2 separate regions of the Homo sapiens genome follow, and region 2 is linked to region 1. Evidence: fine-mapped expression QTL. A gene starts in region 1. The other region holds a variant in brackets. All regions are shown on one strand. Distances are from middle to middle.

Evidence for each region. PIP is the estimated chance that this variant, and not a neighbour inherited with it, causes the effect.
Region 2: its variant is fine-mapped to the expression of MACC1-OT1 in minor salivary gland (GTEx, PIP 0.94).

Annotation. Positions count from the first base shown.
Region 1 is chr7:20,134,163-20,150,527 of GRCh38, reverse strand. MACC1-OT1 (MACC1 3' UTR overlapping transcript 1) reads left to right here and starts at 10,102. Exons shown (of 6, transcript NR_110114.1): 1 at 10,102-10,211. It overlaps MACC1 (MET transcriptional regulator MACC1), which reads left to right. Exons shown (of 7, transcript NM_182762.4): 7 at 9,370-15,873. The coding sequence ends at 9,582. It overlaps MACC1-AS1 (MACC1 antisense RNA 1), which reads right to left and starts at 8,612. Exons shown (of 4, transcript NR_046756.1): 1 at 8,508-8,612; 2 at 2,991-3,101; 3 at 1-93.
Region 2 is chr7:20,062,805-20,079,169 of GRCh38, reverse strand. The region is part of intron 1 of MACC1-OT1 (MACC1 3' UTR overlapping transcript 1); the gene reads left to right. Among named protein-coding and RNA genes, the nearest start is that of MACC1-OT1, 69 kb to the left of the region's middle. The variant A/G (reference allele first, on the strand shown) is at 6,984.

The DNA.
Region 1 (16,365 bases):
TGCAGATCTAATACTCCTTTGTATCTTCTATTCACAACCTGTTCCTCATTTTCTGACTGGCCGCTGGAGAGTTCAAAGTACTTTGTTCCAAGTCTAGATTAAAGATAAGAAAGTTGTTGATTTTCAAGAAGTTTTAGTCATTTTCTATAAGTGAATGAATTCCACATGGAATTCTTTCCACTTATTTAGTATCTTATATCTGTGTCCTAGCCTTCAGTATTTAATTCATCCATATACTTAACGCTTATTCTGGGTCTATCAGTTCTGGACATTGGTTTAGGAGCCGTAAAAAACACACAATATGATTATTTTTTCCTTAAAAACCAGGTTTTACTTTGGCCTGGGAATTGGGATAAACTGTTAATATTTGAATTGTTATAATATTTCTTAAAAGTATAGGACTAGATGACAATGTTAATAGTTGTAACTTACCAAATGTTCATTGTCAGCTAGTCATTATGAGCATTTTCTTTACAGTATCTCTATTATTTCAATATACTTTGTAAGGAAAACATTATAGCCATCTGCTCTTTACATATATACAAACTGAAGGTGAATGTATTTGTGTAATTTATCCAGTTACATGGCTATTAAGGGCAAGTACTTAGATCTGAATTCACGTTGTCTTATATAAAGTCCTAACCACTGTATTATACTAATGATAAGCCCTTTCAAATTTAACTTACTTAAAAAATATCAAAGTGGTGAGGAGTAATTAGGAGACATGCTAGCTTTGAAGGATGGGTGGCCTTTGAGTAATTGGAGAGGAATAGAAGTAGACTTCAGTGCTTCTAAATATCAGTGAGCTCTAGGGACCACTGAGAAGATGTGGCCTGGAGGGGAGAGTTCACCTTACTAATTACTGGGTGATGTGGTCAGGTACATATGTTGGTATCAATGGAGGGGAGTCTTCAGTGACTACCAGAGCATAGAGGTTAAGATTCTTGGCTGGACTTCTGTTCCACCTCTACCATCTATCAGCCCTCAAGCCTTGGGCAAATTACTTTACTTTTCTGGGAATCTATTTTGTGTGTCTGTGAAGTAAGGAGAATAATACTATCTTACTCACTGGATGTTTAGAAGATCAAATGAGATAATAAATGTGTAATATTTGGGACAATGTTTTGCATATTGTAATCACTAAATACATATTATTTATTATTTTAATGAAGAGGAAGAGGAAAAGGTGAATTTGATAACTATATAACTTTGAGTAATTTTTGGAAAATAGAATAAAATACACTGTTTTTTTAGTAATGTGACTGAGAGTGCCTATAGGAAGAATGTAAGGAAAAAGTTAGCAGTTATTTCAAGGTTTCTCATCTGAGAAACTGGCAGAATAGCAATGCATGGAAAAAAATGAGATAAAGTCTTGGCTGATCAGCTTATTTCTTATGGGCTTAACAACATTTAATTTTCCTTGGAAATTATCTCTCGCAAAAGTTAAAAGAAATGTCCTTGGGCTGTATGGTTTTCTGGCTTACATGGCAACTTCTGGATTCTGCTTACAGGGATGTTGAATTATCAAGGTCTGTATCAGGGCCTGGTTCAGTTCTAGCCTTGGTACTTAATTCTTTTGTTTGCTGTTCTTTTGAAATGAGAAATATATTTATAATTTCTTAGAGAAGGGAAAAGTATTATATGGAAATTCACATACCAGTTGTAAAATGTATAGAATGATATCTCAAATCTCCATTGTTTGAACTAGAGATTTGGCACAGTGATGTTATTTAGATTACCATTGTCTACTTTGTACAATTTAGATTACCATGTCTACTTTGTACAATTCTATACTTGTTACAAACTTTAATTTCAAAAAGATACTCCATTTTGGGAGGAATGAGGTAGGAAAGAAAACAAAGATAGCACAGTGAAATTTCTGGGGTAACACATTGTATTCCTATGATCTTTGACTTAATTCTATATTATACACTGAAAATCAAATAGAAATAACATGCATATTAAGTTAAACATTATTAAGAAAATTCAAAATGGATTTAAAGACACTATTTAATTTTGACTTTAGGTTTTCTTTTTCAAGCTTTAGTACTAGGGAACATAAACAATAAGGAATTTCAGAAAACCAAAATCCAGCTATGTGTAAGACCAAAATCAGCATTTGTTAGAACTGCTTAATAATGAAATAAAGTTGTGGCAATACTTTAGTAAAATGGCCCTAGATTTATAGCAAGGTTACCTGGGTTCTTTTCCTGGATAGTTGACTGTGATTTTGTTTCTTAACTTTAAACTCAACTATAATTAGCATTAATTGAGCACTTGGTGTGTGCCAAAAACATTTACATCCATTCCTTTGTATACTTAGCAATTCTTTTATAGCATTGGGTACACCTTTTTTCTCATTTGCCAGAAGGGGAAAGCAAGGGCCTAAAGAAAGGTGATAGCTTACCTAAGATCCTGGAGCTACTAAACCAAGAGTCTAGATTTAAACCAAGATGTGTGCCGCTAAATCCAGAGCTCTTGACACTGTATTTTTTCATTTGTTTTAATGTTTACATTGAAAAATTAAATTGAAGGAGCCCAATTTCTTTAAACATTGGTGTCAGTTGTCTCCATGAATATATGTTTTTGGCAGGGGCATGGGTGGCAGTGATGATGAGGAGGCAATGAGGAATCCTCCCAACTAGGAATTGGTAAGATGGCTTAACCAGCAGGTTTTCCTATAATGTTAGACTATTTAAGCAGATGCACTAGCAAGGAATAGGTCCTCTGTCTTCCTCTGGCTCATGCTTAACCCCTGAAGTTCCAAGTGGTTATTCTCACCCAAATTTAGCTGGTTGTCCTCAAATAGACTTTTTCAATGGAATCTTGTGTCAAGTTTTAACCAAGCAGCATCTCCCTCGTGAGGACATAGGGGCCCCCAGATATGTTAGCCTCCCTTCTCTTCTGAAGACAACAGCAATCTTACCTTCAACAATATTTATGTACTTACTAATTATAGGTAATGTTAAATGTTAAGTGTTAAAGCTTACCTGAATATTGTAAATGATGTACTGAGGATAGAACACATGAAATAATCATTAAGAAGGCAACCTTGCCTTAATACTTCTTCAGCTAATGGTACTGAAAATGAAGTGTTGTTCCTGTAAGTTTATAGGAGAAGTAAGTGGATTACTAATCCTTTAATGTGACAAAATGTAATTATCCAAAAGTAGTTAAAACCAATTGCATTCTTTATGCTATTCATATTTTATAAGCTAAAAAAAGACATACAGTGCTATGCTGAAATCTGAATTTCTTCTACTCATGTGGCATTTCATTTTCTAGTGCATTTTCTAATGAGTCTTATTGGCTTCTGGGAATGAGCACTCTAAATTTGGAAAACTATGTATGTTTTGCCTTTATTCCTATTTCATTTCTTTTGGCATCCCACTTATTACTTTTTATTGCTCCATTACTTTTTATTTTGTCCTATAACACTGAAAAGATAACCTAAGACACACTTCTTCCACACAAAAGCTTGAACTTTGGAAAACTGCTCAACTTTGTATGTTAAATACTTACTCACGCTGCTGCCCTTTTTTATAAAAAGAAAAGCACATAGATGAAAATTAACAACTTTGTGCTTTTATCAGCCTCACGCTTCCTATTCAAGAATGAAACTGCAACATCATGAAGTTACCATTAAAAATCTAAGAATAGAGGCATAAGAATGCAGCCTATGTATTAAATATTTGTGATAGAAATGAGAAGGCTGAGATAATTTTTGTGGTTAAGAATAATTTAACAACTAAAAAACAAGCCCTCCTGAGAGGGCTTTCCTTTAGATTTTTCAAAACACAAGTGTAGAGTTTCTGCATATCTTTTCTAATCATAACATTGAGCAAGAGAGGAACAACTATTTTTAAAACACAGAATAGATACAAGACAACATAAATCTGGAAGAGATCTTGGCTGTCTGCAACTCCTTTCTAGCCTTCGGAGGATTAAATGTTAGTCAGTCCGGAAAGAAAATTATTTATTCTACGCATTTTATTCCTTCAAACATTTCCAGAAAAGATGACTTCATTTTCTTTGTAATTTATTAAAAAATTTAGAATTTTTTGTGACCTTACTGGGTAGATATTTTAGGGCAAATTTCATAGAGTTTATTGTTAATTAATGTACACAAATTACCTCTTATGTCTCTGCCTTGGATAAAATGTATTTACTGTTTAAGAAAACCAGAATGAAATGAGATAAAAAATGCAGAAAAAATAAAAGTACCTTTAGAACTTGTGTCCAAATGTTCATATATCTATTCCACAAAGGACAATTAAACAACTGATTAGCCTATTTACTGTATTGAAGAGACCTGGACGATTAATCAGGTTTTTTTAAGGCAAAGCTCAAATAGAGATTTACTTTTTTTTTTTTTTTTTCTTTTTGAGATCCAGGCTGGAGTGCAGTGGCATGATCTTGCCTCACTGCAACCTCTGCCACCTGGGTTCAAGCGATTCTCCTGCCTCAGCCTCCCAAGCAGCTGGGACTACAGGCGCGTGCCACCACGCCTCACTAATTTTTGTATTTTTAATAGATACAGGGCTTCACCATAATGGCCAGGCTGGTCTCGAACTCCTGACCTCATGATCCACCCACCTCAGCCTCCCAAAGAAGTGCTGGGATTACTTGCGTGAGCCACCACCCCCAGCCTAGAGATTTACTTATTAAGGGAAAACATAGTTCCCCCAATTTAATATTTTTTATCAGTGTATTAAGTACATAAGTCTTGACATATGCTTTTGTTCTCATTCCTTCTCGATTTCTCATGATACTTGCCCCTCTAATTTTGTGCCCTAACTCCATAATGATTTTAACATCCTTTTGTATTTATGTTTCTGCCAAAGGAAGTTAACCTTTCTTCTTGGGTGCTTTATATATGCTACCTCTTTAAGCCTCATTAACCTTAAGTTCTCCATATGGCAAAGCTAAGATTCAAATCCAAATCCCCTTGCCATCATAGAATATTACTTTAAAAATTTTTTTTCTTTTTAAAATACCTCTATTTTCTACTGCTGCTTGTTCTGGTAGGATATTACTTTTTAAATTTGTTTTTCTTTTAAAAATACCTCTATTTTCTACTGCTGCTTGTTCTGGTTCTGTCTCTCTTCCTTTGACACTCAAATTTCAGATGTGACCCATTTGTTTGGTGTCTTCCATTTCTTTGATACCTGTTTGTACCTGTCGTATGCCCCCGACTATTCTCTTGAAACTGCCTTCTCCAAGTTACCAAAGTCCTGCTAATTTCCAAAATCCTGGATTTGCCAAGTTTTTCTTTATATTCCCACATTGTTGATGTTACAGGTAGCAGTGGAGGTAACAGAAAAGGGAAGTCCTCAGTGTTACACTGGCATATGTTTACCAACCAACCCTGCAGAGGGAAAAAATCTAAACTTATAGCTTTTGTTAATGTTCTTAGTGTAAATATTCCGATCGTACATCATTTTAACCTACCATTGTGGTGTCACTGGAGTTGTGGAACATGGAGTTGGGAGGATATCCAGGGAGCTTGTGTGAGCTGGCTCCAGCAAGCCAATGCATGTCCTTTTTGGGATGTTATTATACTTCTTGGCTTTTGCAAGATGAAGCATGTGATTCACTTTCTTTTTCTTTGACTCCAGCTTCTCCCCATCCTTTTATTGCGTCTATTTCTCTCTTGTATCCACTAATAATTGACTTAGTTGAGAATTAAATTTTGCATCCCTTTTTTCTCTTCCTTGGTGTTTTCTTCTGCTCTCATGTGTTTTGCCATCCCTGTAGCACAAGTGATGCTAAACCCTTGTCTGTCCTCTCAAGGTCATCTCCTCATTCCAACTGTAATTTTTTATCAGATACCCTCCCTTTTGCTTGATATTCAGTAGGGCTGAAAATAGGCTCTTTAGCTTGCCCCTGCCAAAAAAATAAGTACTTTCTTCTCTATCCTATTAAGAAGTATAAATGCAAACTATATGCCAGATACATCATGAGGTATTTTGAACACAAAATTTGGGAATGATTATCCATATTTTATAGATTAAAAAAATTCCAAGCTGAAATAACTTGATTAGTTTATCAAATTAACCTATCAAATAGGCAACAGAACTCAGATGTAGACACAGGACTCTGCCACCCAAACCTATCTTTCTTTCCATTATAGCATCAGTGAATACAACAATCATTTTTTCTCACACTGATTTAAAATATGCAAGTAATTTTTGAGTTTTTCTGTAATTATCACATCCTATTTCATCCCCTGTGCCAGTGTTTGTGCAGGTGTCTATCTCCTTCCTACGCTATAAGCTTCTAAAAGCAAGAGTCATGCAATATTCATCATTTTCTTACTGTAACAAAATTTATTGTAGTGGAAGATAATAAACCTTGATTTGATAAGCAAAATAGTTAATGAACAATGATAATGTTGAATATTTTCATTGTATTTATGCTATAAAAGTGTTTCTCTATCATCTTTGTTGAGAGCTACCAATGATTTTGTACACAGAAGATGAATTTTTGCACCAAAGGAATATTCAGGTTTAATTTGCTGCAATGAGGAAGAAAAATGGAATACAGAGTATGCTCATATTTTAGTGTAAATCGTAAAGTTTACCAACGCCCTATTGTTTTCAGCCCAATGCTCTTTTACCCATTTCTAGCCAGATTACAGCTTACACTCCAGGGAGTCTCAAATCGGTTTAGGGCAATATTCCCCCTTGCATTTCAGACAAATTCAGGGGACTCTTGGGAAGTCTTTACACCTTCAAAAATCTTAATTAGGGCCTAGGACTCAGTATTGTACCCAAATTTCTCTGATTTGCAAGAGCTATCGACACTACTCTGTTGTTAGTACAAATTGCCAAATGTAGGGCTGGGCGTGGTGGCTCATGCCTGTAATCCCAGCACTTTGCGAGTCCGAGGCGGGCGGATCATGAGGTCAGGAGATCAAGACCATCCTGGCCAAGGTGGTGAAACCCTGTCTCTACTAAAAATACAAAAAAATTAGCTGGGCGTGGTGGCGCGTGCCTGTAATTCCAGCTACTTGGGAGGCTGAGGCAGGAGAATTGCTTGAACCAGGGAGTGGGAGGTTGCAGTGAGCTGAAATCACACCACTGCACTCCAGCCTGGGCGACAGAGCCAGACTCCGTCTCCAAAACAAAACAAAGCAAAGCAACAACAACAACAACAAATTGCCAAATGTGAGGACGTTATGTGGTGCTCTGCGTAAGTGCATGAGTAGATGTGTCGTCGGACCTTTCCTGAATCTGTAGTTTCTATTTTTTGCATCACCTGTGGTATTTCCTGCCCTCAACAGCATGGAGAAGCTGCTTCTTGACTGAGTGTGCCTAAGGGCTCCTCTACACATAGCAATTCACAGTCCTGCCGCAAGATAGGCCATAGATACAGAGCTTTTCTTCCCATGAAAGTAGGTGGGGCCATATTGGCTGCTTTTGACTGTAAAAGTATTTGAATCTGTAGTGTAGTGGACAACCCCAAAATTACCCTTTTATAATTCTTGAGATGTCTGTTTTCTGCGATGCTTTACACTAATCTACTATGCCATCCCCTTTTTACAGAAATGTTTTAAGTTGCTGTTTATCATAAAATATCTTCAAATACATCATTTATCAGACTCAATCACTAGCAGACTTAGAACAGTCTTAGAAGCCTTTAGCTATAAACACCATTATTTTAAAAAATACGTGACAATTTGAACCAGTTCGTTGAGCATCAGGGACTTTTAAGTGAATAGAAGGTAGTGTCCACGTCTCAGAGATTTTACAGACAGAATATACCCACTACAGAATAATCTATTTGTTTAGTGATTCTTTGCAACTGAGCAGCGACAACCAAGATTGAGTCTGACAAAAAAGGTTCCATTACTATGTCTCAACTGATATTCCATTGTTGAGAAACTAGTGGCAATTGTACTTTGAGAAGTTTGATTTCAATGTAAATCTTCAGAAATATAGATGAGCAGATGCCTCATTCACATTCCATCAGACATAGAAGATAAAATTATTAATCCGGTTGGTGAGGGTAAAACTTATATACAAAAATCTGAGATGATTTTTGTTGCTGCACCATATGCTGATATGGTATAACTTTGATAATTGTCTTTTATTCTCTACCTTGCAAAATTAAGCTTTGTCGAGAGAGATGAGGAAATGGCTGTTCATGGCTTCCCAGGAATGCCAGTTTGGACAAATAACATTAAATTGTCCTTAGAGCCTTTTATGTGGATTGAATCAAATACATAATGGAACTCCCTATTTAGGTCTTTAATTCTTTTAACTTTAAAATTAGACTATATGAGGATATTGGAGGATGGTGAAAATTATATGCCAAGGCTTTAGTTCATGTGATATTACTGAACTGTGATAGAGGTTCTACTTTAAAAGGGCAGTTCTGCATGATATTTAGCTCGGAGTCTATGTTCCTACATTTTGCAAGTGATAGAATCACAACCAAATTAGTTCAGTGAACCCCCCAAAATAAGCAAATAATAAAGTTTATATTTCAAATATTCCACTTACAAGTGCAGGGTTCATTTTGTTGTTTCCCTAGAGAAAATTCATTTTAAGGTGCTGTGTGTGTGACGTGTGTGTGTGTGTGCGTGTGTGTGTGTATTCTACAATTTGTCTTATTTGGTCTGCCTTTGTCTCTATTCTCCCTCTAGCCTGGTTGCCTTGGTTACCATTACATGCATGCTTGTATGTGAAGTTTCTCTTTGACGTACATTTATTTCTATGGAAACAATGACATCATTGGTATGGGTAGGTGCTTAGGAAAAGCAAAAAGAAGCAGCACTGAGTATTGGTTTTTCTTTCGATGATAAAATATATCATGAAATAAATATTTTAAATTAGAGAATTATATTTTTGCTTTCATCTTGACTTGATCAAGAAGCTAGATTTTTGCTTGTTTATAGACTTGCTCGAGTAAAATAATTTAAAATGTTAAATATACTATTTCTCTCCTGATACATTATTTGGTGTCATAAAACTCACCACAGATAGGTATAATAATAATAATTAACTCTAAAAGTCTCTCAAATAGTAAAAAGCCTATCTCAATAACATTTGTTACCATCAAAAAATTGTGCAAGGAATTTTATATTCACATGAAAGCAACAGCAATGTATAGATGATGGATCAAGGGAAAAAAGGCCCTATTTGTAGTTATTATTTTTAAAATCTCTAGTTTTAAAAACACAGGGATATAACAGGAAGCTGATAGTTATTAAACCATATTTTCTATGACATCAAATAAGTCCATGTGTAATTGGTATTCCGTTTTATCTTAAATCTTAAGAGGCTTTTTACATCTTTTTTTTAAAAACGATTTTCCTCTCCTTTCTACTTCCACACTACTCCAATCTATTTTTTTTCTTTATAGATGATGTGGAAACCTGCCTATGATTTTCTGTATACCTGGAGTGCTCACTATGGAAATAACTACAGAGATGTGTTACAAGACCTTCAGTCAGCTTTGGACAGAATGAAAAACCCTGTGACTAAACACTGGAGAGAATTAACTGGAGTTTTAATACTAGTAAATTCTTTGGAGGTTTTGAGAGTAACTGCATTCTCCACTTCTGAGGAAGTATAGAAACAAAGCGTGTGTTTTTGATGGGAGGGAAAATGAGGTAATGGTGTGTGTGTGTGTGTGTCTGTGTGTGTCTGTGTGTGTCTCTGTGTGTCTGTGTGTGTGTGTCTGTGTGTGTGTGTCTGTGTGTGTGTGTGTGTGTGTGTAGGAAAGAAAGAATCTCAGAAAAGCATTATATTAATTTTCTTCATGCTCAAAACCAGTTTTTTTTTCCTGATGAAAGCACAGCCTAACTGATAACCAAGATGGGTTTTATCCTCAAATATGTATTTTTGTGTATGTTTCAAATACAAGTATTAGGCTGCTTTGTTCTTAGAAAGGAAAGAAAAAAGAAAAGTGCCCTCTCTCTCTTTCAGTGTTATTTTAAATTTACTAAGTCAAAGCTGTTTGAATAATTACATCACACAGATATCTGGGTAAACTAGAGACTATCAACATGATCAAGGCAGTGTTCCCAGGAGGCAGCTAGAAAGAGGGGAAGCAAGCACACACCCTGTGGCCAGTCACGGCTGCCCGCTTTCCACACCTGACCTCTTCAGTTCATCAGTGGGGTTCACCAGCATCACCCCCATTTTTCATGGGGAGAAACTCAGAAGTGGAGAGAACGTCTGAGGCTACATAGCCAGTACAAAGTAGGTTTTCTGCTTGAAAAACCTGTTTCTATTTCTTTTTAAAAAATCATACTGCATAACAGAATAGTAAAAACAAAATGCGTGTTAAGACTTACAGGGAAACAGTTGCCGTTTCATTTTAAGTGAGACTTGCTACTCTTTTTCATCGTCTCTTGAAAGACTGACAGAAGGAAAATATGACTTATCAGAAATCTGTTGTCTGCATGCATGGACCTAGTGTTTTCATCAGCTCCCTTCAGCATCTTGGGACCTCTCTAATCCTGCCTAATTTGGGACTTTTTCTGCAGGATTGTAATGTAAAATAGTTCTTTAGCTCTTGGAGATTTTTAATAATACGAGTTATTAAAAACCACCACCACCAGAAACTTGATTAACTTGATTACCCTGTTGAGTAGAGAGGTCTTAACCACCGAAAACACTGATATCTTTATGTTGGCATGCTCATGCAAACACATGTGTGTGTGTGTGTGTGTGTGTGTGTGTGTGTGTGTACCACAGTGTTTTATAAAGCACAGCCTAATTGATTATATAGGACAAAAATTGTATAGGACCCTGGGTCAGTATAAATGCTAATGGCTGACAAAGTTCACAAAGAGATGTATTTTGCTTACTCCTCTGTTCAATCCTCTGGTTGCCTGCCAGTGTTTATGTGTGTATTTGGACAGACATTCATTTATTGTCATTCAGTCAATAGGTAGAGTATATGTGTCTATTTTTTGGCAGGCATATAGATGCTTGAGGCTAATGGGAAAAAACCAGCATGAACTCTGACTTTAGTAGTGCTAAGTAATAGATAATTTTAAAAAATGACACCGTTAAATAGAAAATGGCATGCATACTAACAGTTGCAATGGAGAGGCTGTGATGCTACGAGATATAAACGTAGAGATGCCATCATGTGAAACTGGAAGTGGGGGTGGGTCAGGGAAATTTGTTCTTGGAAAGAAATAATGAACCTCAAGGAAGAGTAGGCATTGTCCTGGTGTGGTGGGGTGTAAGCGGTGATCCCACAAAGCACTGAAGCTCTTAGATGGGTGGGAGCTGAATAGGTGCAGATAGCAGGGGTGAAGGAGTGAAAGGATAAAAGATTCAAGGTTGAGATGAGGATGGAGCAAGAAGAAGCCACATTAGGGCCATTAAGGCTGCTAGAATTTAGAAAGAAAACACACAGCCTCAAAGAAATGTGGGTAAGCCAAAGAAGGATTTTGTTTTGGGAACCTGAATAAAAGATGTCCATTTGGCTAAAAAGTAAAAGCAGAATCTTTTTAGGGCTTTTAATATACCCACCCTGGGATATTTGGTATGCTGGCAATGGTAATTCAAATTGGCGTTTAAGAATAATCTTGGCCGGGCGCGATGGCTCATGCCTGAAATCCCAGCACTTTGGGAGGCCGAGGCGGGCAGATCACTAGGTCAGGAGATCGAGACCATCCTGGCTAACGCGGTGAAACCCCGTCTCTACTAAAAATACAAAAAATTAGCCGGGCGTGGTGGCAGGCGCCTGTAGTCCCAGCTACTCAGGAGGCTGAGGCAGGAGAATGGCGTGAACCCGGGAGGCGGAGCTTGCAGTGAGCCGAGTTCATGCCACTGCACTCCAGCCTGGGTGACAGGCTGTCTCAAAAAAAAAAAAAGGAATAATCTGTACGGCTTTCAGTATTTATATTTGATTATAAGGGAACACAGCCTGACCAAATAATTATGTATACACATTCAAGGACAGAATTTATTTTAATTAAAAATAAATTATGAGAGAAGGAAAAAAAAGCACAGTTTTTACTTTCAGAACACAGTCCTTTTTTGTGGTGATTTTGCTTTCTTTAGAACATTCTTGGAATCTTATTAACATGTCAGCTAACCAGAGAATTTTGGGAAGGGATAGTGGGGATTAATAACTGGGTTTTTCCAGGCTCCAAGATCTAAGAAGACAGAGATCTTGTTAGCTGATTAGTGTAGTAAGATTAAATAAATAATTTAAGGTTTACATTGCATCATGTATTATGATTGTGATTGAGAATAATAAGAGTTTAAAAAAATGAAAAACAAGATCTCTGTAATTTGAGGATGAAACAATGGTTCTAATATTAATACACACAAATATATTTTATAATCTTGTAACAAATCCTTCCAGGGGAAATTTTTTTTTTTTTTTTTTTTTTTTTTTTTTGAGCCAGAGTCTGGCTCTGTTGCCCAGACTGGAGTGCGGTGTTTCAATCTTGACTCACTGCAACCTCCACCTCCTGGGTTCAAAAGATCCTTCTGCCTCCGCCTCCCAAGTAGCTGGGATTACAGGCATGCACCACCTTGTCCGGGTAATTTTTGTATTTTTAGTGGAGACAAGGTTTTACCATTTTGGCCAGACTGGTCTGGAACTCCTGACCTCAGGTCATCCACCTGCCTCGGCCTCCCAGAGTGCTAGGATTACAGGCATGAGCCACTGCTCCCAGCCTTCCAGAGGAATTTTAAGCCCATGTCCAAACATTCTGTTTGTATAAATATATTCTAATTTTTAAATAAATAGTTTCTACTTTTCTGAACTTTATATTTTTTCTTGCTATAATGGATTTTCATAATCAGAAAAGATTAAATTAGTAATCATGAATTGCCTTCAATATTTGGCAGTAAGTCAATGAAATAATAAGGCACTTATATACCATCTTTGACATCATTAAAAGTATCAAATCCCATTAATCTAAAACTTCTTTAAGCATTTTGAAAGCAGAAAATGTTTACATGGTTCTTTCAGTTCCTCAGGCTTTTTGTCTAATGATGCGTGACTTAGGATAAGATTTGAATTAAGTGCCCAGCTTGAAACATAATAATTTTTCTGTATAAGCCACAGATCCTCTACCTCCTTTGTGTTAAAGCCTTTATATGAAACAATTAAGTAGAAGCATTCAATAGTGTGTCATTAACTGTTCATACTAATAAATGGATACAGCACATTTTCATGGCCTGTAATGTAGAACATACTATATAAAGTTCTCAGTTTGGGGATGACTAGGTTTCTGGAAGGAATAGAATGCTAAATCAATGGATGGCATTGGGCTGAGAAACACTGCTGCTACTAATCAGCCTTGAATGTGTAATGTGAACATGCAAAAGAGAACATGCATACACTCAAATTTGTACAATGCTATAACTGGAAGTTGAAGGACTTGAATTTTTATATTGTGCTATTGTTATGTTTTCTGTAATTGTTTATATCTAAGGAATTTTTGAGGTAATATAAAAGAAAAAGAGAATAATGAACAATGATGTCACTGGAGGGTTTTTACATTAAATTAGATCATTTTTCTTCTTATTCACAATAATAATCTTAATCTTTAAGAATTAATTATAATTTAATATTATAATTCATAATCTTTAAGAATTAATAATTATAATTTAATATTATAATTAATAATCTTTAAGAATTAATAATATAATTTAATATTATAATTAATAATCTTTAAGAATTAATAATTACAATTAATAATTAATAATAATCTTAATCTTTAAGAATTAATAATAATCCTTAATCGCAATAATAATCGCAAGGAGGAGAAGTAAGTCCCTCCTCCTTCTGTATGAACTTTTCTCCCACATGCTGCTGTATGGTTTAGTGAGAGTGAAGTTCTAAAGAACATCAATATGATTGGTGGGATAATCCAAAGACATTTTTTCAGAATCAAATGGCATGTCGAAGGTTTGTTTCTTGCATATGTATTTACTGGTCCACAGCACAAAATAAAGTGACCACATATACATAGGAAAGTTGAATTTGTACACATACAGCATCTGAAATGTATCTGATGTTCAGCATCAAGATTTCACTGAACATTGTAGAAATGTGTATCTTTTGCATGTATATTTTACATTGATTTTCTATTTATGTACATCTAGAAAGTTTTAACCCTAATAAATAGTTTTGTAATTTTGAATAATAGTGTCAGTTTATATGTGAGGGAGTAGAGACAGAGAGGTTAGCACTGGATAATAATTAGTAAGGCCAAAGGAGAAAATTTCATAGAAAATATTGTTGTTGTCATAATGAGTACAGCATGAAAGGCTTCCTCTACAAGACACTAGTCAAAGAGTTGAGAGCTGCGGTTTCTAATCTTTGTCCATTACTCCCTTACTCCCTATGAGACTGTGGACCTGTCACTTGGCCTCTCTGGTCTTCAGTTTTCTCACCAGTAAAACAAGGAACTTGAACCAAATGACCTCTAGTGTTCCCCTTGGGTTTAAATGTCTATAAATGTTCAATGACTAGAATGTATTGCGTTTTTCTTTATTCTTTTTGCTTTGAGAAAAGAGAATGTGATTTAAGAGTAATAATTTGAATACCAATTATCCACATTAAAATTGTGTCCTCTATGTGTAAGGCATAGCACATTTAGCACACATACATAAGCACACTAAGCACCTTACAAATATCCTCATTTATTCTTTACATAATCTTTTGAAATTGATTATGTAATACACACTGTTTTTGAACAATTGGTGACTTCCAGCTGTTTAAAACAAACTACAGTATGGTGCTTGAGTACTGACTTAGGAGGTCAGCATTGGTTTCACTAGGAGCTTCTCAAAGCACGCTGCCAAACATGCTCCAGTCTCATTGTCAAGGCCTTAGACCAGGCAATCATTACGGCAGTGGTTCTTCAACTTCAGCAGCAGCAAAACGATCTGGCGGGGGCTTGGTGAAACAGACTGCTGGGCTCGACCACCAGAATTTCTCATTCAGAGGGTCTGGCCTGATCACTTGCATTTCTAATCACTTCCCAGGTGATGCAGATGTTTCTGGTCCAGGGACCCCAGTTTGAGAACCACTGTATTAAAATTTCCTTCATCTCTATAGAAATGGAAAGATTTTTTATAAGTCCTCTAATTTGCTTTAAGATAAATGAGATTTCACTTAATTCTGTTGGAGAAATTGTTTTAAAAATTGTGCTAAAGAACCGAAAATCACTTTATGTTAAGGCTCTATTTATAGCAAGTGAACTTTTCATGAGTTAATAAAGGCCTACAAAAATAATTTTGACTGTGAAACTAATTAAAATCTCTGTGTTTCATTTAAAGCATAAACATATTTGAATAAAAATAGGTTAACAATAATTTGGGACATGTATTCAGTATAATTTTAAGATAATTTTACAAAATATATGTAACATTGCATTTGTTTCTGTAAAATATCTTCGGAAAAAGCCTTGTTTTCCCTAGTGTGTTATTTGTTGAATTTCTTGTTAAATGTATTTTTTCCCATTGAAAAAAATGTTTTTAATCAATGTGATCAATACAGCTATCTATATGCCCTGCTTTCACTGTAGAATTAGAAAGTGTTAATAAGGTGATCGGATGTTCTTTCTAAGGATCATATTCCACATTTAAAGAGATGGTGACTGAGAAGAGGTGGCAAGCTGAACCATCTCACTTTGAGATTGACGTATCACGTTTTATCCTCTGCCATCATTTCCTTGTTAATTGTTTTTCTTTGGGTGATTGGAAGAATCTATGGCTTCCTTTTCTCTGTTCTTAAAGATATCAAGACTCTGCCCTTTTGTGACTGGAAGTAGATTTTAAATGTCCCTAATGTTTATATGCTCACTTAAACTCAATACATGGAATTTACTGGGGCATTTAACTTGTTCATGAAAATAGAGTGAGTCATTGAAAAATCAAATCTTTAGTTATGATTAAGTTATTGTTTTTACCTAAACTGGTTCTACCAAACTCACTCTTTAAAGCAGAATCTGGAATTGGCAAGTCTGATGTAATGCTGATCTTACACATATTAGATTAAATGACCTAATAGAACCAGCTACTGCGCCCTTTCTTATCAGAGTAGAAAAACCCATTCTCTGGGTTTACTCCCAGGAAATACATACTCAATGCTCACTCAGACGTTTTATATCATGACGAAAAATCAAGAAAGGGGTGAAGTGGAGCTAGGGAAGGGTTCAATTACGGTGTAAAGAAAGAAGGCTGCCTATTCATGACAATGGAAACTTTGTCTTCCTCTCTTTGTGTTGGAATTTTTATTTTTATTTTTATTTTTATTTTATTTTATTTTATTTTTTAGACAAGGTCTCCTTGTCTCACCCAAGCTGGAGTGCAGTGGTGCAATGATCGCCTGACCTACCTCCACCTTCCAAGAGTAACAGTGCTCCTGCTC
Region 2 (16,365 bases), 71 kb after region 1:
AGAATGGCAGAACAAGTTCTTGCACACATCTGACATGCTGGTGGCAGAGAAACTCTGGGGCAGAAAGTGAGCAACTTCTAGCACAGCTGAGGAGAGACAGCATGAAGTTACACTTGCTTGCATGTGACTAGAGATTGCTGGAACAAAACACTGAGTTGAAGGATTTTGATGTGAGGAACAAAAGATGTCTGATACAGTCCACCATTCCTCCCACTAGCAGCAAGTCCTTGAATAATGTTGTTTCCCTCAACACCATTTCACTATAACGTTGATGAGAAAAAAATGTTTCTTTATCTGTTGTTTAACTTAAAGTCATAGTTTCCAATAACCTATCGACTTTATTAAGTGTGGACTTAGTGTAATCAAAGGAGCTTCTAGGCCTCATTCATGACATGACCACTCTCACATCAGAGACTGGTCAGTGTGGCATTTCCATGGTGCTCAATCCTGAATGCATTCATCACAGAGCAATTTGACAGCTGTACAAGTAGTGGAATAAAATTCTGCGAAGTTGGTTGGTGTTTATTTTTGCTACTACATTGCCATGATCTCACCGGAGACATTAAATAAGGAAAGCGCTAATTATTTAATTAACTGCAGCTGCTGATGTTGAGTCACCTACCATTTCTGCATAAATCAAAGGAAAATATACTCTTTTACTAGATAAATGTTTATGTAATTTACTCAATAATTTTCAGTAAAATTTTAGAAAGTGTTCACTGTGTACCAACAGCTACAAGCTAATATGTGGGGACAGAGCAGTGAATCAGAGAGATGGGATCCATGCTCTCTGGGAGGTGATAATCTGGTCATGGAAGAAGGAGCCTCATGCATGTGATTAGATGATAGTTTCCAATGTGGGTGATGTTGTTCCTGTAAGTGGGTGTGGTGCCCGTATAACAATTTATTCTGCATGTAAAACAGTTTTTCTTATTTCTTTTCTTATTCACCATTTATTTGTCTTTTTGCTGTACTTTCTGGGAAGATTTCTTCAGTTTCATTTTCCAGCTATCCATCTCCTATTTACTTTTTGTTTCTACTGACATATTTTTTTAATTCCCCAGAATTCTAATTTGTCTATTTTGTTTAACCTGAAGCAATTTAAGCAATGTCTTCTCAGATCTCTGCATATAGAAATGATATGAATCTTTACTGTCCTCCATAGTCTGTTTCTTCCAATGTGTTTTTGACCCTTTTTGATTGCCATAGCACTGTATTTCCACATCAAAGGCATTTCTTTCAAATAGAAGGGATAAGTTCAAGAGATCTATTGAATAGCATGTTGAATATAGTTAATGGTGATGTACTGTATTCTTGAAAAATGCTGAGGGTGGATATTAAGTGTTCTTGACAAAAAAAACTATATAACTAAAAATAACCATATGAAGTAACAAATTTCTTTATTAGCTGGATTGAACCATTCCACAATGCATATATATACAGTTGTGTGCCACATAACACTTCAGTCAACAATGGACTATATGCATAATGTTTTTTCCATAAGATTACAATGTAATAGTTCTACAGTACTCGTCTATGTTTAAATATGTTTAGATACACAAATAATTACTATTGTGTTACAGTTGCCTATAACATTCAGTACAATAACATGCTGTACAGCTTTGTAGCCTAGGAGCAATAGACTCTACCACATAGCCTGGCTCTACCACCTTGGTTTGTGTAAGTACATACTATGATTATTCAATGACAAAATCACCTAACCATGAATTTCTCTGTCCTTAAATGACTCGTGACTAAACTTCAAAGATCATATTGTACACAATAAATACATATGATTTTATGTCAATTTAATACAGTTAAAAATGGTATTCTGCTCAAGGATAAGAGTGGGGGACAAAAAGTTGATTGCAATTTCTGTATAATTTAAAATTCTCTTTTGGTTTGTTTGGGCTATTTTTGAGGAACCCTTAAGATAAACATCTTGAAACAGTGAGATTGCTTAGGGTTGTGAGTTCCAGAATTCTGGCAGCCAACTGAAAGAGAAGGGCTGGGAGTGGCTTCATATTCAGTGTTTCAAATGTTAATGGTGACTTAATCTCCCAATTTCAGTAATGTATTCTCCAAAATCTTCCTGGAGCCACAGTACAAAGACATTTTCTGTCTGGGCCAGAGACTAAACCTGCAGACTTGTGCTGGGGATGGTGGGGGCGGGGGATTTCTTGGAGATGTGGCATGGGAGAGGGATCCAGCTTCCCAGTGTTCACTCTATCCTTGGAGTCTTTACCATCTCTCACCCTTCCTGCTGCTCTCGCTGTACTTCTTAAAATATAAATTGTCAGTTTTTTGTTTATGCTACTGCCAACTTTAACTTTGGCCTTCTTGGGTATGCTAAGCTAGTTATCCCTGTGTGAATTAGGAAAAAGGGTTCTCCACAGGGGGACGCATGTCTTACTTGATGAGGGCAAAGCAAAGAGCTGGATTTTGTCTCCCACTGGCTTCCATCCCAGCCTCTGACATATACCGTGGCCATGGTCACCATGGGTCCATCTGCTGTTTATCTCATCCGTGTGAGTTTTTGCTTTTTTATGAAATCTTTTTGCAATAGCTTACATTTATGAAGAAAGCTAAATTATGCATATTTATGTAATCTACCATCATAACCCAGAAATGGTATTTAGAAATTTTTAAAAGCCAGATAAATACAATGTTCTGCAATCATTTTCTTGACAGATTTCTTTAGAAATCTGTATTTATCCCTGTGGCTAAATAGAATTATCTGCTTAGAATTCTTAAGACAGATCATGTAGCAACTGAGATCAGAATATTGCTAAATAAGCAACCCTGAAGAACATACCATTTGCAAAGCAAATTCAAAACCACATACTTGGCTTGAATAAGATAATATTAAAGCTTAGATGTCAGCTAGAATAAGCTTGATATTTAAAACTAATTAAAGAGTTGTGCAAATTGCACATAAATACATTACTCAGCATATCCTGCATCATTCAGTAACTGAAGAACATTATTCATCTCACTTAGTGACCTCTCATTCAAGGGTGAAAACAGAGATTACTTTATTCTCAATGATGGAAGCCAGGAGCTATTTATTCAAACTAAGATTCCCTACACTCTAGCTTTTTTAATGGGTGGGAAATTAATAAAATCACAAGAGACTTTGCACTTTTTCTCTTTGCCACGTAGGTAGGGAAAGGAATGCATGGCACGGATCTTTATCAGAGTCTCGCAATGTGCTTTAGACAAAAAAGCTTTATAAGAAACATTTTTTTTCTTCTGGGGATTAGAGAATACTTTGGTGACCAACGCCTCTGCCCATAACATCTATGCAGCCTTACCTTTGCCCACCTCTATAGTGGTCAACTCTAACCCTCATAAATAAAGTTAAGTTGAGATAGAGTAATCCATCCAAGCACTACAGTGCTCAGTGAGAGAGTCTAACGAGAGACTTGCCCATTTGTGTTCCTCAAACTCTACAGGCCGTGTTCTCAACGCAGTAATATCTCCAACCAAATAAAATCTTCTGAAGTATAATTCATAATTGCATCACTTTCTCCTTAAAGCCTTCTGGTGTTCCTCATGATCTGCCTATTAAAGTCTATAATTTATTAGCCTGGCTTCTAAAGCTCTCACAATGTGCCTTTGGTATAATTTTACCATGTACAGTCTATATTTGCACCAAGTCGAATGGCTTGCTGTTTTTCTAAAAATGTAAAATTTTCTTATTCCATAGGTTTGCACGTACCAATATTTCAGTTTGGAAACTGTTTCTTCCCCTTCTCCATTCCATAGACATTCTCTATGTCTGTTACATGTTATCCATCAATTAAGTTCCAGCTTAAGGGCCACTAACTTCACTCAATCTGACTTCAGAAACTTTACAAAATTAAATTTGATGTTATATTAGATAGATAATCAATACACATACACACATACATAGATGAGATATATATACATATATACATAGATGAGATATATATTTCTTACTCAATTTCAGTCAATTTAGACAAATTTCGCCCCCTCCCCACCACCCACACTGCTTTTTAAACATGATCTCCAGTTCTGGAACAGGAGCTTGGCAAATAATAGTGAATAATTCTTTCCTGAAAGAGTGTCATACTGAGCCCTTTAGACATTTTTTTGTGGGGCAGTAAAATTGTAATAGATTCTACTTGGATAGAGAGAAGACATTTGTTTTAAGAAATAAATTTTGTGGCTTTTGTCATTCAGAGTTGTAGGTGGGCATCTACATTGCATCTTCATGATGGGTATGAGATCTATTATTGTGGTTTGGTTAGACTTCTTTTGTGCCTCAGCATCAGGCCAATTTTCATAAATATTGCACGTGTGTTTGAAAATGATGTGCTCTCTCGTTTTTGGAAATGAGTTTGTTCAACAAATACTTTCTTGAAGAGCTAATATACGGTGGGCACTGTTCTGAATAGTAAGAAGGATAGTGTCATACAAGTCTTCATGGAATCTACTAGTTAAGGGGTAGGGAAATAAGCAAATAAACATGTAGTGTTATATTACATCATGTTAAATGCTAAAAAAAACCATAACCAAGATTTATGGAAGGTGTTCACCGAAGGCTTTTCTGAAGAGATCTTTTAGAATAAATTTAAATACAATGACAGAGCAAGCTATGTGATTGCACCCATTATTTGGGTGAATATCCTTTCAGGCAGAGGGAACAAATGGAACAATGGCCCTGCAGTGAGAATAAGCTTGCAATATGTGTCTGGAAGTGATTAATCAAGAGGGAGATTAGGAGGGGTCAGAGAGAGAAGTGTGAGATCATATGTGCCTTTGTAGGCTGTGGAAAATAATTGGGATTTTACTCTGAATGAGATGGAAGCCATTAGATGTTTGAGCAGGGATGTGGTGTGACTTAAGCATAGGGCCCAGGATGGTGGGAGATTAGTTGGAAGGCTATTTCAGTCCTTTAAATGAAATATGTTGAGGTCTTGGATGTAAGGAGAAGACATTGAAGGTGGAGAGAAGTTTCCATATTCAGCAGACATTTAGAAGGTAGGGATAAGCAGACTTACTCTGATGACTGAATATGGATATGCAGGACCTGGAGGAGTAAAGCATGACTAAGAGTTGGGGCCTGAATACCTTGAAAATGGTGCTGCCATTTAACGAACTAGAGAAAACTGGGGAAGAGGCCAGCTGCTGCCGAAAAATTTGCTGTCCAACCCTTCATTTTTTTTTTTTTTTTTTTTTGCTTTTTTGCTTTTTTTTTTTTTTTTTATTATACTTAAAGTTTTAGGGTACATGTGCACAATGTGTAGGTTAGTTACATATGTATACATGTGCCATGCTGGTGCGCTGCACCCACTAACTCGTCATCTAGCATTAGGTATATCTCCCAATGCTATCCCTCCCCCCTCCCCCTACCCCACAACAGTCCCCAGAGTGTGATGTTCCCCTTCCTGTGTCCATGTGTTCTCATTGTTCAATTCCCACCTATGAGTGAGAATATGCGGTGTTTGGTTTTTTGTTCTTGCAATAGTTTACTGAGAGTGATGATTTCCAATTTCATCCATGTCCCTACAAAGGACATGAACTCATCATTTTTTATGGCTGCATAGTATTCCATGGTGTATATATGCCACATTTTCTTAATCCAGTCTATCATTGTTGGACATTCGGGTTGGTTCCAAGTCTTTGCTATTGTGAATAGTGCTGCAATAAACATACGTGTGCATGTGTCTTTATAGCAGCATGATTTATAGTCCTTTGGGTATATACCCAGTAATGGGATGTCTGGGTCAAATGGTATTTCTAGTTCTAGATCCCTGAGGAATCGCCACACTGACTTCCACAATGGTTGAACTAGTTTACAGTCCCACCAACAGTGTAAAAGTGTTCCTATTTCTCCACATCCTCTCCAGCACCTGTTGTTTCCTGACTTTTTAATGATCGCCATTCTAACTGGTGTGAGATGATATCTCATTGTGGTTTTGATTTGCATTTCTCTGATGGCCAGTGATGGTGAGTATTTTTTCATGTGTTTTTTGGCTGCATAAATGTCTTCTTTTGAGAAGTGTCTGTTCATGTCCTTTGCCCACTTTTTGATGGGGTTGTTTGTTTTTTTCTTGTGAATTTATTTGAGTTCTTTGTAGATTCTGGAAATTAGCCCTTTGTCAGATGAGTAGATTGCAAAAATTGTCTCCCATTCTGTAGGTTGCCTGTTTACTCTCATGGTAGTTTCTTTTGCTGTGCAGAAGCTCTTTAGTTTAATTAGATCTCATTTGTCAATTTTGGCTTTTGTTGCCATTGCTTTTGGTGTTTTAGACATGAAGCCCTTGTCCATGCCTATGTCCTGAATGGTATTGCCTAGGTTTTCTTCTAGGGTTTTTATGGTTTTAGGTCTAACATTTAAGTCTTTAAGCCATCTTGAATTAATTTTTGTATAAGGTGTAAGGAAGGGATCCAGTTTCAGCTTTCTACATATGGTTAGTCAGTTTTTCCAGCATCATTTATTAAACAGGGACTCCTTAGCCCATTTCTTGTTTTTGTCAGGTTTGTCAAAGATCAGATGGTTGTAGATGTGTGGTATTATTTCTGAGGGCTCTGTTCTGTTCCGTTGGACTATGTCTCTGTTTTGGTACCAGTACCATGCTGTTTAGGATACTGTAGACTTGTAGTATAGTTTGAAGTCAGGTAGCGTGATGCCTGCAGCCTTATTCTTTTGGCTTAGGATTGTCTTGGTGATGTGGGCCCTTTTTTGGTTCCATATGAACTTTAAAGTAGTTTTTTCCAATTCTGTGAAGAAAGTCATTGGTAGCTTGATGGGGATGGCACTGAATCTATAAGTTACCTTGGGCCATATGGCCATTTTCATGATATTGATTCTTCCTATCCATGAGCATGGAATGTTCTTCCATTTGTTTGAGTACTCTTTTATTTCATTGAGCAGTGGTTTGTAGTTCTCCTTGAAGAGGTCCTTCACATCCCTTGTAAGTTGGATTCCTAGGTATTTTATTTTCTTTGAAGCA[A/G]TTGTGAATGGGAGTTCACTCATGATTTGGCTCTCTATTTGTCTGTTATTGGTGTATAAGAATGCTTGTGGTTTTTGCACACTGATTTTGTGTCTTGAGACTTTGCTGAAGTTGCTTATCAGTTTAAGGAGATTTTGGGCTGAGATGAGGGGGTTTTCTAAACACACAATCGTGTCATCAGCCAACAGGAACAATTTGATTTCCTCTTTTCCTAATTGAATACCCTTTATTTCTTTCTCCTGCCTGATTGCCCTGGCCAGAAATTCCAACACTATGTTGAATAGGAGTGGTGAGAGAGGGCATCCTTGTCTTGTGCCAGTTTTCAAAGGGAATGCTTCCAGTTTTTGCCCATTCACTATGATATTGGCTGTGGGTTTGTCATAAATAGCTCATTATTTTGAGATACGTCCCATCAATACCTAATTTATGGAGAGTTTTTAGCATGAAGCACTGTTGAATTTTCTCAAAGGTCTTTTCTGCATCTGTTGAGATAATCATGTGGTTTTTGTCTTTGGTTCTGTTTATATGATGGATTATGTTTATTGATTTGCATATGTTGAACCAGCCTTGCATCACAGGAATGAAGCCCACTTCATCATGGTGGATAAGCTTTTTGATGTGCTGCTGGATTTGGTTTGCCAGTATTTTACTGAGGATTTTTGTATCGATGTTCTTCAGGGATATTGGTCTAAAATCCTCTTTTTTTGTTGTGTCTCTGCCAGGCTTTGGTATCAGGATGATGCTGGCCTCATAAAATGAGTTAGGGAGGATTCCATCTTTTTCTATTGATTGGAATAGTTTCAGAAGGAATGGTACCAGCTCCTCTTTGTAACTCTGGTAGAATTTGGCTGTGAATCCATCTGTTCCTGGACTTTTTTGGGTTCGTAGGCTATTAATTATTGCCTCAATTTCAGAGCCTGTTATTGGCCTATGCAGGGATTCAACTTCTTCCTGGTTTAGTCTTGTGAGGGTGTATGTGTCCAGGAATTTATCCATTTCTTCTAGATTTTCTAGTTTATTTGCATAGACGTGTTTATAGTATTCTCTGATGGTAGTTTGTATTTCTGTGGGATCAGTGGTGATATCCCCTTTATCATTTTTTATTCTGTCTATTTGATTCTTCTCTTTTCTTCTTTATTAGTCTTGCTAGTGGTCTATCAATTTTGTTGATCTTTTCAAAAAACCAGCTCCTGGATTCCTTGATTTTTTGAAGGGTTTTTTGTGTCTCTATCTCCGTCAGTTCTTCTCTGATCTTAGTTATTTCTTGCTTTCTGCTAGCTTTTGAACGTGTTTGCTCTTGCTTCTCTAGTTCTTTTAATTGTGATGTTAGGGTGTCAATTTTAGATCTTTCCTGCTTTCTCTTGTGGGCATTTAGTGCTATAAATTTCCCTTTACATGCTGCTTTAAATGTGTCCCAGAGATTCTGGTATGTTGTGTCTTTGTTCTCATTCATTTCAAAGAACATCTTTATGTCTGCCTTCATTTCGTTATGTACCCAGTAGTTGTTCAGGAGCAGGTTGTTCAGTTTCCATGTAGTTGAGTGGTTTTGAGTGAATTTCTTAATCCTGAGTTCTAGTTTGATTGCACTGTGGTCTGAGAGACAGTTTGTTATAATTTCTGTTCTTTTACATTTGCTAAGGAGTGCTTTACTTCCAACTAAGTGGTCAATTTTGGAATAAGTGTGATGTGGTGCTGAGAAAAATGTATATTCTGAAAATGTATATTCTGTTGACTTGGGGTAGAGAGTTCTGTAGATGTCTATTAGGTCCGCTTGGTGCAGAGCTGTGTTTAATTCCTGGATATCCTTGTAAACTTTCTGTCTTGTTGATCTGTCTAATGTTGACAGTGGGGTGTTAAAGTCTCCCATTATTATTGTGTGGGAGTCTAAGTCTCTTTGTAGGTCTTTATGAATCTGGGTGCTCCTGTATTGGGTGCATATATATTTAGGATAGTTAGCTCTTCTTGTTGAATTGATCCCTTTACGCTTATGTAATGGCCTTCTTTGTCTCTTTTGATCTTTATTGGTTTAAAGTCTGTTTTATCAGAGACTAGGATTCAACCCCTGCCTTTTTTTTGTTTTCCATTTGCTTGGTAGATCTTCCTCCATCCCTTTATTTTGAGCCTATGTGTGTCTCTGCGTGTGAGATGGGTCTCCTGAATACAGCACACTGATAGGTCTTGCCTCTTTATCCAATTTGCCAGTCTGTGTCTTTTAATTGGAGCATTTAGCCCATTTACATTTAAGGTTAATGTTGTTATGTGTGAATTTGATCCTGTCATTGTGATGTTAACTGGTTATTTTGCTTGTTAGTTGATGCAGTTTCTTGCTAGCATCAATGGTCTTTACAATTTGGCATGTTTTTGCAGTGGCTGGTACCAGTTGTTCCTTTCCATGTTTAGTCCTTCCTTCAAGAGCTCTTGTAGGGCAGGCCTGGTGGTGACAAAGGCTCTCAGCATTTGCTTGTCTGTAAAGGATTTTATTTCTCCTTCACTTATGAAGCTTAGTTTGGCTGCATATGAAATTCTGGGTTGAAAATTCTTTTCTTTAAGAATGTTGAATAATTGGCCCCCACTCTCTTCTGGCCTGTAGAGTTTCTGCTGAAAGATCCGCTGTTAGTCTGATGGGCTTCCCTTTGTGGGTAACCTGACCTTTGTCTCTGGCTGCCCTTAACATTTTTTCCTTCATTTCAACATTGGTGAATCTGACAATTATGTGTCTTGGAGTTGCTCTTCTCGAGGAGTATCTTTGTGGCGTTCTCTGTATTTCTTGCATTTGAATGTTAGCCTGCCTTGCCAGGTTGGGAAAGTTCTCCTGGATAATATCCTGCAGAGTGTTTTCCAACTTGGTTCCATTCTCCCCTTCACTTTCAGGTACACCAGTCAGACGTAGATTTGGTCTATTCAGTTAGTCCCATATTTCTTGGAGGCTTTGTTCATTTCTTTTTACTCTTTTTTCTCTAAACTTCTCTTCTCGCTTCGTTTCATTCATTTGATCTTCAATCACTGATACCCTTTCTTCTTGTTGATTTAATCAGCTACTGAAGCTTGTGCATTCATGTCATAGTTCTCGTGCCATGGTTTTCAGCTCCATCAGGTCATTTAAGGGCTTTTCTACACTGGTTATTCTAGTTAGCCATTTGGCTAATCTTTTTTCAAGGTTTTTAGCTTCTTTGTGATGGGTTCGAACTTCCTCTTTTAGCTAGGAGAAGTTTGATCATCTGAAGCCTTCTTCTCTCAACTCGTCAAAGTCATTCTTCATCCAGCTTTGGTCCATTGCTGGTGAGGAGCTGGGTTCCTTTGGAGGGGGAGAGGCACTCTGATTTTTAGAATTTTCAGCTTTTCTGCTCTGTTTTTCCCCATCTTTGTGGTTTTATCTACCTTTGGTCTTTGATGATGGTGACGTACAGATGGGTTTTGGTGTGGATGTCCTTTCTGTTTGTTAGTTTTCCTTCTAACAGTCAGGAATCTCAGCTGCAGGTCTGTTGGAGTTTGCTGGAGGTCCACTCCAGACCCTGTTTGTCTGGGTATCTGCAGCGGAGGCTGCAGAACAGCGAATATTGCTGGACAGCAAATGTTGCTGCCTGATCATTCCTCTGGAAGCTTCGTCTCAGAGGAGTACCCAGCCATGTGAAGTGTCAGTCTGCCCCTATTGGAGAGTGCCTCCCAGTTAGGCTACTCAGGGGTCAGGGACCCACTTGAGGAGGCAATCTGTCCATTCTCAGATCTCAAACTCTATGCTGGGAGAACCAGTACACTCTTCAAAGGTGTCATACAGGGATATTTAAGTCTGTAGAGGTTTCTGCTGCCTTTTTTCCAGCTATGCCCTGTCCCCAGAGGTGGAGTCTAAGGAGGCAGGCAGGCCTCCTTGAGCTGCAGGGGGCTCCACCCAGTTCAAGCTTCCCAGCTGCTTTGTTTACCTACTCAAGCCTCAGCAATGGGGAGCACCCCTCTCCCAGCCTCACTGCCACCTTGCAGTTCGATCTCAGACTGCTGTGCTAGCAATGAGCAAGGCTCTGTGGGCGTGGGACCCTCTGAGCCAGGCGTGGGATATAATCTCCTGGTGTGCTGTCTTTTGAAAAGCGCAGTATTAGGGTGGGAGTGATCCTGTGTTCCATGTGCTGTCCGTCACTGCTTCCCTTGGCTAGGAAAGGGAATTCCCTGACCCCTTGCACTTCCCTGGGAGGCAATGCCACACCCTGCTTTGGCTCACACTCAGTGGGCTCCACCCACTGTCCTGCCCCCACTGTCCTGCCCTCACTGTCCGACAAGACCCTGCGCGATGAACCTGGTACCTAAGTTGGAAATGCAGAAATAACCCGTCTTCTGCGTCGCTCACGCTGGGAGCTGTAGACTGGAGCTGCTCCTATTTGGCCATCTTGGAACCGCCCCCTTAAGATTTTTAAAAGCCCTGTTGAGTAGTTGAGAGGGTCTGTGTGGAACTTTAAGTATTTCTGAGGTCTCAGCAAAGGATCTTATAGTCATAAACTTGATATGAACTTTATATTGAGGGCAAGTTTTAATGGAAATGCCCTTGCTTTGATGTTTGCCCTGTAGCCATTTTTTACTGTAATAAGTCTTTTCATGTCTGAAAAGAATAGTTTTATTCATGAAAAAAAAAAAACTAGTGCTGGCCCCTTCATATTTTCTGTAAATTCTGCTTGAAAATTGAAAAATTCTTTTTCATTCTTTTTTTTTTTTTTTTAACTTATCTTGCTGTTCTTCTGTTTCACTAGAAGAAGCTTTTTCCAGCATTCTGACTGGAAAACTTCTTAGCCAAAACCATAAGTTCCTGAAGTGCCCTTTATATAGCCCATGTTATTGCAGACAATGCTGGTTGTTTTGCCAAAATAACTTGTTTTCTTTTTTTTTCCAGCCTGTAATAATATTTCTTCACTGTACTTTAAGCTTTCACTAAGAGTCTGTGCTTGTGTCTTGTCCCAAAACTCAACAGTTGATGTCTTAGGTTTTAGTTGTCCAGCAACCCACCTCTAGGCCCAACATCAATGGTTAAAAAAGAGGATAGAAGCATGAAAGCAAAAAAAGAAATTACTGTGAAAAAATATATACACAATTCACTATATAAATTTTAAAGCCTTATAATATCAACCTCTCTCACTGTAAGTAAAGCTAAAGTCAGTAAGCTAAGATTACTTGAACCATTTAAGATGAGTCTAGAATTAGATTTAAATAAAAAATGGGAAGTGATCTTAGAAACGAAACAATATATATTAAAGTTTAAAAATGTTTGACACAATAGCTTTATTCTTTGAAATGTATGCTAAAGAAGTCAGAGGTATACTTAAATGTATTACTATGAGGATATGCATTACAATATTATACATGCTAAAAGATTAGAAAGAAAAATAAAAAACTAGGTAAAATAAGAGATTGGCTAAATAAATCATGATATTGCTGTATTAAAAATTAAGACCCAACATCATGTTTTCTGAGGCTGTTTAACATACAGAGAAAAGCTCACAAAATATCAAATAAAAAATCAAGTTTAAAAAATTGGCGATAATACAAACAAATGCATAAAAATGGAAATATATATTCAAGTATTGAGTAGTAATTTTTTCTGATTTCCTAATAATAAATAGTAATAATTTTATAATTGAAAAACCCTCAACAAATAATATATACTGTTTCTAGTGTTTTCTGGGAGTTCAGTTAATGATTTATTATAATTATCATTATCATTATTATCCTTAGAGACAGGATTTCACTCTGTCATCCAGGCTAGAGTATGGTAAAACAACCACAGCTCACGGCAGCCTTGAACTCCTGAGTTCAAGTGATCCTCCCATCTCAGCCTCCACGGTACCTGAGACTACAGATGCATAACACCACACTAGGCTAATTTTTAAGTTGTTTGTATAGAAAGGGTCTTGGTATGTTGTCCAGGCTGGTCTTGATCTCCTGATCTCAAGTAATTCTCTCGCCTTGGCCTCCAAAAGTATTGGGATTACAGGCGTGAGACTCTGTGCTCAATCCATTATTGCTTTGAAAAACGGAAGTTGTGACTCTGACTTCCTTAAAACTGGATCCATATTCGGGGTGAAGTATATCTTGGCCTCTTAGGATTTATCTGATAGGTATAGAAAGTTAGTGTTGGTCAGGCACAGGCACCCTTGGGTAATAGGAAAGTAAAAAGAAAGAGATTTGGTACCTGCTTTAGAAAACAGCTATTAGTAAATAAAAACTGAATTGTTACTTACTGTATCTCTTGTAACAAGAAATTTGTGAAAGAGCATTTGCTCTTACTAGAAAGTCTAAGGTTAATAAATATAAAGTTGAAAAGATAACATTAAAATTATAAAGAAAACTAATTTTTACTTCCTTGGAACATTGAGACAAAAAAAATAATTAATGATCATGAAGTACTTTGAAAATGTATCTACATTGTATAACATCAGACTCGGTGCTAACCTTTGGTAGAGTTCACAACAAATCAATTAATTCTTGATCATCCTGGCAGCACTGCCAAGTATCATTAGTGCTAGAAGCCATAAGCAGCCACTGAAGACCTGCCTATTTGTACTTCCTGGAAGACTTAGTTTTCAGTGTGTGGCATGGAGCTGGCCCTGACTGTACATTATAGCACAAATAATTACTCCTCAAAACTTGGCTTGCTGCAAGCAATTCATTCTTCTCTGCACAGAAGTCCCCCACTCTGACCCAGAGCAGTATGAATGTTGGCTAAAAATAGCAGCTGCACAATGCGGCAGGCAGCCATGGTGAGACTGCATTGATGTGGTTTCATACCCATGGTTTCAGAGCACTTTGCTCACACAAATTAACCCTTAAATACCCTATCTTGTTTCTCTGTTCTTTGAGATATAATGCATGTTTCTTTTTAAGAATAAACTTTGCTTTGCCTGATGGAAAATTCTTCCTTTCTCTCAGTTTATGTGTTTACTGTTTCTTGTTTCTCCGTTTTCTTTCCTTCTGCAGTTGGAGTGGGAGAGTAAGAGTGTCAGTTCTGCCACTGTCACTGCAATTTCTGATCATACTACATGCTCAAAAGAACACATTCACTAACACTGGCTATGTGCTTGTATGTGCTAGGCACTGTGGAGGATAAACATAAAACCCTCATGTCCTTATCGCGTTAACCTCAGGAAAATCAAGCGCTTAAGTAACAAACAGTGAAGCATTTGACTCCAATCTTCAGTCTCACTAAGGTGATTCGAAGATCCCTGACCTCCTCACCCTATGCTTGGTTTCAAGGATCCTCTAATGTGAAGGTCTGCTGAGTGGAATTCTGACTTAAGGACTCCACCTGCATCACTCAAGTCTCAAGTAAAGCCCTATTACAAAGGCTTCTACCACCTTTTGCTGACACATCTTCTTAGTCTTGTTGATCTTGGTTTAAGATTCACTTCACAATCATTCCAGAGGGCCTGGATTCTGTTATGCTAATTGGACCGCTGGACATTCCAGAGTTCCTACGAGGCAGAGGCTGATTAAGCCAAACTCTAACCCTCAAAAAGGAGGATGATGGACAGATGCGATCTCTGCCCTCAAGAAATTTATGATTTAACCATGCATACTAATGGTGGTGATTATAAATACAGCATCTCACGTAATTCTGTTGCCAGATTTTGCTGGATCAATGAGCAGAAAGATGGACCCTGAGTTGCAGTCTATCTTAATATTAATTGTTAACTCCTTAATGCTCACTGTGTAGCAGTGAAAATATTTAGAGCAGCATTTAGCTCTTCTAAATATTTTACATGTGTTTAGTCATTGTATCTCCACAATAACCATATCTTCATCATCCTTTTCAGAGAAAAACTCAGCACTCAAGTTCACAAGAAAAACAGTGACAGAGTCAGGATTCAAACCCATGTGGTGTAATGTGAGAGCATACATGTTAACTATAATAGTAAATAACCACAGGTGGTACTGAATTTCTGGAACGGCAATTTGTATTCTTTGGAGGATCAGTACATTAAATGCTATTCTCAAAAGGAGGCTGTGAATATAAGTTTGGAAAACATTGTATATGCTATGTATGGGATTTATGGCAGATTTTAACATATTACAATTGCATATGTAAATACTGCAGGGAGGAAAACAGTTTTTAGGCTTGTTCAATACAAATTTTCCAGACATTTTTGCCCATGGAATATTTTTTCACCACATAGTTCCTTAATATGCTGCTGAAGAAGATATCTGAAAAGCCCACTTTTAGAAATGACAGGAAAGGAATATAAGAAAAATTGATGTTTCTAAAAAGGACTCATAGTGATAAAATGAGATGAAGGTTCCTATAAAGTCAGGAATTGGGGAGAAGTGTCTGTGTTATGCTTCAGTAAAACATGATGTCGATATTAGCTGACTGTGCTTTATATTTCTCCCTACCCCTGTTCCCATCTGCAATTCATTTTTTTCAAAAAGCTATGTAGTGTGTTTCATGTTCGTCTTGTCTATACTGTGAAGGAAAAACTTCCTTTAAACATTTATTGTAACGTAAAATGTTTAAAGAAGAATAAGATTTATTTTAAAAAGTACACATGTATCAGCTCCATTAATTTAAAATGTGAACACACATGTGCAACTAGCATCCAAATCAAGAAACAGAGTATGACTACAACCCCAGATGCCTCTCCCTTTTCCAGTGACTACCCACGTTCACCAAGCATAACCACTATACTGACTTCTCTTCCCCTAGATTTATTTTTAATTCAGTTTTTTACAGCCTTATTGAGGTATAATTGACATCTATTAAACTACACAAAATTAAAGTGCAGTTATTGATGATGAGTTTTAACATATGTATCCCACACAATCAAGATAATGAACATATCCACCATCCCCCAGATATTCTTTTTGACCTTTATATCAACTAAACGACAACTGCACTGCTTTCTGTCACTGTAAGTTAGTTTGCATTTTATGTAATTTTACATAAGTGGAATCATACCTGTGTATTCTGTCTCTTTTTGAGTGGAATCTGGCTTATTTCAATCAGCATGATTACTTTAAGATTTTTTCATGTTTTTTTTCCATTAGTAGTTTATTCTTTTTTATTGCTGTATAATATTCCATTTTATGGATATACCACAATGTGTTTACCTGTGTGTCTTTTGATGGAAATTTGAATTGTTTTGGCCTTCTGGCCATTAGAAATAAAGCTTCCATGAACATTTGTGTAGAAGTTTTTGTGCAGATGTATGCTTTCATTTCTTGCTAGCTAGCTAGCTATACCACCTAGGAATGGCATGCCTGAGTCACATGACATATGTATACTTAACATTTTAGGGAATTACACACTTTTCTAACGTGGATGGAGAAATGTACATTGCCGTCAGTAGCATACCATGTTTCAGTTGTTTCATATTCTCATTGACAGTTGATATGGTTGGGGTTTCTCATT